2 separate regions of the Homo sapiens genome follow, and region 2 is linked to region 1. Evidence: fine-mapped expression QTL. A gene starts in region 1. The other region holds a variant in brackets. All regions are shown on one strand. Distances are between the middles of the regions.

The links.
Region 2: its variant is fine-mapped to the expression of INF2 in whole blood (TOPMed, PIP 0.98).

What each region holds. Positions count from the first base shown.
Region 1 is chr14:104,688,334-104,691,229 of GRCh38, reverse strand. It overlaps INF2 (inverted formin 2), which reads right to left and starts at 1,612. Exons shown (of 23, transcript NM_022489.4): 1 at 1,491-1,612. RefSeq lists silencers at 1,099-1,148, 1,239-1,478, 1,499-1,588, 1,689-1,948 and enhancers at 1,641-2,630, 2,631-2,896.
Region 2 is chr14:104,770,498-104,773,374 of GRCh38, reverse strand. AKT1 (AKT serine/threonine kinase 1) reads left to right here. Exons shown (of 15, transcript NM_001382430.1): 11 at 1-124; 12 at 283-497; 13 at 923-1,010; 14 at 2,528-2,630. Among named protein-coding and RNA genes, the nearest start is that of SIVA1, 19 kb to the right of the region's middle. The variant C/T (reference allele first, on the strand shown) is at 1,586.

The DNA of each region.
Region 1 (2,896 bases):
AGTCTATTTCAGGTAGGAGCTTCCACGTCCCCACATGTGCGGTGTGTGTCATTCGCTTGACAGCCGTCAGCTCCTCCACAAAGTGGGCGCTCACCTGAAGGTTAACTCAGGAGCCCTGGCTGTGGAGGCTACAGTCGCACCTGGCCACTTGGTCCGTCCCCACTAGCGACATCCCCTTTGCCGGGCTGCAGGGCCCATGACAGTCCAGGGATGGGAGGGCAGGGCCTGGGCAGGGCCCACTGCACCAACCTGGCTTTTAGAACAGAAAATTGCTGCTGCCCTGGTAGGGGTGGGAGCAGTGTGAGGTCTCAGACCCCAGGCCTGGAACCCAATGCTACTATTTGCTGCACTGGGGGCTGAGCACCGACACCCCAAAAGCCCCTGGCTGGGTGGCACCCTCGGGGTCTGAGGCACTGCTCTGGGACCCCACCTTCCCAGTGCAGGGCGGCAGGGAGCAGGTCCCAGCCTGAGCTGCTGTCCCACCCTTCAGAGTGCAGATGTGGAAACTGAGGCCGGAAGAGGGCGAGTATCCTGCTCCATTCCAGTGCCAGACGGAGGGGCAGGGCTGGCAGTAAGGGAATTTCCTACGTCCAGCGCCTTCTGGGTGTGCCTGACCTCTGGCCCGGTTCCTGGGTTCCTGGTTCCCTGCCTGGGCAGGGTCTCTGCCTCTCTGCCTCCTGGTGTGTCCAGCTGGAGTGGGCAGTAATGCTGTGGTCACAGCTGAGCTGCGGGAGCCCTGGGTGGGGAGCTTGAGCCCCAGAAGGCCCAGACAGACAGACCACCCCCCACGCCTGTGCTCCCCAGGGGGCATTGGGGACGGTCAGGGACACAGCTGGTCACCCCGCCTTCCCCTCCTTAGTCATGGTCACTCCTGGGGCGACTCCCCAGTTAGAGGGTTGACGGGTGGGTCTGGGGGCGTACAGGGATTGGATCCTACCCCACCCAAAAGGAACAGAGAGCTGTGATGGAGGCTGATTCCCCTAAGCCTGCCAGCGGTTGCGGGGTGGGAAGGGCTCCCTGTGCGCCCACCTGCGCGTGGGCAGCTGGAAGCCAAGCAGTCAGGGTGGGGCCGCAGGCCGGCGCGCACCTCGGGGTGCCACCCGGGCGGCGGACCCGAAGTTGAAGTTTATTTTCCCAACTGTGGCTGATTCATGGTCAGGATGTGGCAGCCGCGAGGCGCGGAAATCCCGCCTGCCCTGGGAGTAGGCCCGGCCGACCCTGGGCCCACCACTCTGCGGCCAGTGCGCGCTCGGGCGGTGCCTCGGCGCGGAGGACCATAGTCCCGAGCGGGGCGCGCGGAGCCGGGGGGGCCAGGGGCGCCCTGGGGTCCCCGCCCGGGAACTGTACCCTGCGCCGCCGGACCGCCCGCCGCCACCTGGGCACACACGCCGCAGCCCGGAACCTCGCTCCTGGACCCAAGCACGCCCCTGCCTCCTCCCGGACTCAGTTTCCCCTGAAGCTCCAAGCGGACCCCGAGGCCAAGGACTTACCCGGTGAGGCAACGGCCAGAGGGCGGTGGTGCGGCCGGCGCTCCGTCCGGGGCCGGGTCAGGGGCTGCGGGCAGCCGGCGCCCACTGCCGCGCTCCGCAAGGCTCGGACGGTGGCTCCTGGCGGGCGCGGGGCGGGCGGGGCGGGCGGGAGGAAGAGGAGGTGCCGCCCCGCCCGTCAGCGGCCACGTGGGGAGCGAGCGCGGGCCGGGGGCGGGGCCTGGGGGGGGAGGTGGGTGGCTGGGGGTGGCCCCGCCCACTGTGGCCGGTCCCTGAGGGCGCTTTAAGGGGTCTCCCCACTCCCGTGAATAACCTGGCCGCCCCCTCGCGGTCCCTGCTGGCCTGGCTCCTGGTGGGCGGAGATGGGGGTGGGACGCGCAGATCGGGGCCGTCTCCCGCCTCAGCCCCCACTGTCCGCCCCGTCCCTGCCCTCCACCGCCTCCCGTCCACCTACACCCCTATCCTCCGGTGGGACTGGCCTCCCAGGCGCCGCTCACCTCTCTCTGCCCCGGCCCGGGACTCCCGTTCCAGCCAGCCGGATCCGGAGTCCCCGCGTTCGGGGATCCCTCAGCAGAGATGGCTCTTCCCAGGCTTTGGGGAGAGAGAGCCTACCCATCAACCAGGCCACCCATGTGGCCTCCTCTCCGCAGCCCTGCCTGACCCCCTTCCACCCTTGATGGGGTCTCGGCGGTCTTGGGCAGCCGCACTTCGCCGGTTGGTGGAGACAGCTGCATGAGGGCCGCGGAGGTGTCGCAATGGGGTGGGTTTTCTCTGCCACCCCTCTGCTGTCCGGCCTCATCTGTCTCCTAGATTGAGGGGGGCACCCATCCCCCCACCGCCGACATTGACCAGCATGGGGCGTGCCCATAGTCGGCTCTGAAAGCCAGCCTGGTTGGATGAGAGCCAGACCCCAGCTCTGGAAGTCCCTTCTGACGTCTGACCCTCAGTCAGAGCTGCAGGAAGCAGCGCACCAGGCCTGGGGTTTGGGGGCCACTGGCAGCTAGAGGGAGGGCAGAGGAAGGCAGGCCTGGGGGAGCCCCCGTGTGACATGTGACAGAGCAGACACAACCCCTGCCCTGAGAACCGGCGCCAGCACTCCCTGTGCGGCCTCAGGCTCGGATATGACTCTGTGGAGCCTCAGTTTCCCCATCTGTAAAATAGAATAAGTACCCGTAAGGGCTGTATGAGGGTCAAGAACATGCGGATAAAGTGTCTCCACTCGGAGTCCTGACATCTCTCTCCGGAGGGCCTGCTGTGTGGGCCGTGGCGGCCAGGGCTCAGGGTGAGGGCGAGGGGAGAGAAAAGGGCTCCTGAATGGCTTCCCAGCCCCGATGCAGCTTCTGCTTTGAGGCCAGCTGCGTGTCCTTTGGCTTTGGTGTGCCTCCGCTCCGGTGGGGATAAGCGCCGAA
Region 2 (2,877 bases), 82 kb before region 1:
GAACCTCATGCTGGACAAGGACGGGCACATTAAGATCACAGACTTCGGGCTGTGCAAGGAGGGGATCAAGGACGGTGCCACCATGAAGACCTTTTGCGGCACACCTGAGTACCTGGCCCCCGAGGTGTGCGCCCCACCTGCGTGCATACGCGTTGCTGCGTCCCCACGTCCTGAGCACACGCAATGCTGTGTCCTCTCTGTGCCCCAAGCACGTCACACCTCCCCCGGCAGTGTCCCGGACACCCCTTGATGCCGAGTCCTGCCCATCTGCCACCCGTGCAGGTGCTGGAGGACAATGACTACGGCCGTGCAGTGGACTGGTGGGGGCTGGGCGTGGTCATGTACGAGATGATGTGCGGTCGCCTGCCCTTCTACAACCAGGACCATGAGAAGCTTTTTGAGCTCATCCTCATGGAGGAGATCCGCTTCCCGCGCACGCTTGGTCCCGAGGCCAAGTCCTTGCTTTCAGGGCTGCTCAAGAAGGACCCCAAGCAGAGGTGAGGGCCGCCCATCCCAGCTACAGGCTACACCTCCATCCCCTCATCCCCAGGCTGCACCTGCCCCTGCGCCAGGCGGTCCTGGCACCTCCCAGACTACACTGATAGCCAAAGCTTGATGTCCTTGGCCAGGGCTGATCTCCAAAGCCTCAGGCCCAAGCAGAGTGGCGGGCAGGCCGGGGTCAGTTGGGCCTCTGTCCCCAACCCTGCAGCCTGCACCCACCCACTCAGGAAGCCCCTGCCCTGCCGTGAGCTCTGTGGTGCTTTGCTACCCACAGCTGCTCAGGGACGCTGCACCACCGGCTCCCCTCCCTGGCCCCGGAACGTCCTGTCTGGCGGGCCCTACATCACAGGAGGAAGGGGCCTGAACCCAGGGCCTGGGCAGGTGGCGGTACCGACACTGTGGCCTTGTTTCCTGCCTGCAGGCTTGGCGGGGGCTCCGAGGACGCCAAGGAGATCATGCAGCATCGCTTCTTTGCCGGTATCGTGTGGCAGCACGTGTACGAGAAGAAGGTGCGGCTGCTCCCCGCATATTCACGCGCACGCATGCTCCCCACATATCCACACTCACGCATGCACGTGGCACGCTCGCCAGATTTCCCACACACTCGCCCTCACCTCAGGAGCCTGCTGCAGTCCTGGTACAAGGAGGGCCTTGCTGCACCAACCTCAGCGCCTGGTGCTCAGAGGCTCTGGCACTGCCGGGTTCCACCAGGAAACTGGCCTGGTCCTCATTTCCTCCTCCCCTCGGAGGTGTGTCACACTCTGAGTTTCCTCCTCCCCTCGGAGGTGTGTCACACTCTGAGTGCCAGCCTTGGGGTTCCCTTCCCTGACGCTGTGCAGTGAAGGCTGGCTGGTGGTGGACCAGGGGTGCTGCCCCTTGGCCTCCACGAGTTCCTCCTGTTTGACCTCAATCCCTTCTGCCGCAAGGAGAGCCCAGCCCTATTTCTGGCTGTGCAGGGACAGGGACAGCACCTACTTTTCTGGCACATGGGGGAGTCCGCCCTGGAGGGAGGCAGCTCTTTCTGCATGAGTCGCCATCCTGGGTGCTCATCTTTCAGGGACCCTAGGAGCCCTGGCCATCACCC[C/T]AGCTGATGGGGTCTGCCAGCTGGGTTCGGAAGCCTGCACTCTGAGATGCTGGGTGCCCTGTCACCAGGTGTGCTTCTGCCCCGTTCCCAGCCTGCCCCTCCCCTGAATGCCTGTCCTAGGCTGTGTGCAGCTGGTCGGGCTGGGCAGCCCTGGGACCCAGCTGGGCACCTGTTCTCCCATTAACACAGGGTGCCCTGGTCCTGGTCCCCGTTCCTGCCTTGAGGCCTGCCACCCTCCTGCCCTGCCCTCCAAGGGTATGGGGGGCCTGGGCAGTGCTCAACCTCTGCCCAGCCTTGACCAGAGACCTTGCTAATTGACAATGGACAATGCTGGTGCCCAGCCCAGACTCTGGGGTGGGGCAGTGCTTGAGGGGGTCCTTGACTGTGGGACCTGAGGGGCTCTCTGGCAGCTCCTCACGTGTGCACATCACCTTATAGTCACCCTTCATCCTGGGTCATTGAGAGTCCTGTCTGCAGCCAGATGCCAGCAGGCTGTGGTCCTGTAGTCCCTGAGCCATGGAGGCAGGGTGGGCTCATCCTGTGCACCTTGTTCCACAGTCTCCCTCTTTCCCAATTTACAAGAAGACCAATAAGAAAAATAAGAAAACAAGAAAGAAAAAGGAAAAATAAAGTTATCACCTCCTGGTAGCAGGGAGGGTCTCTCAGAGCTGGGCTGCACTACCTCCTGTCGCCTGCTGGGGCTGCTGTGAGGGCAGCTTTGCGTCTCAGCTGTTGAGGGTTGTCTCCGTGCTCCTGCACCCCTCATGTCCCTCCCTCCCAGAGCTGCCTCTGTGGGGGGCTGGTGGCTTGCTGCTCTCTGACATCAGTCCTGCCTGGAGACCCCTTGGAGATCCAGGTGCTTTGAAGGTCTTGAGCACACTTGAGGGTGTGCTGGGAGTGGGGAGCGAAGCTCATGACTGTCCCGTCTGCCCACCTCTGCAGCTCAGCCCACCCTTCAAGCCCCAGGTCACGTCGGAGACTGACACCAGGTATTTTGATGAGGAGTTCACGGCCCAGATGATCACCATCACACCACCTGACCAAGGTGAGGGGCCACTGCCTGCCCCCGCCCACTCCCTTTTCTCTCCACACTCAGAGAGGCCTGCAGTGTTCAGCTTTTTTGGCTTCAGATGTTTTAAAATCTAAATATTTAAAAAGGTTCCTTTTGGAGAGTGCCAATGATCAGGGTGGGAGGCAGTGCTCTGAGGGCCCAGGTCCCTGTGTCAATCTGTGGGGCCCTGTCTCAGTTTCCTGGCAGTATGGCAGCGTGCTGGCCGTGCTTTAAGAGGTTG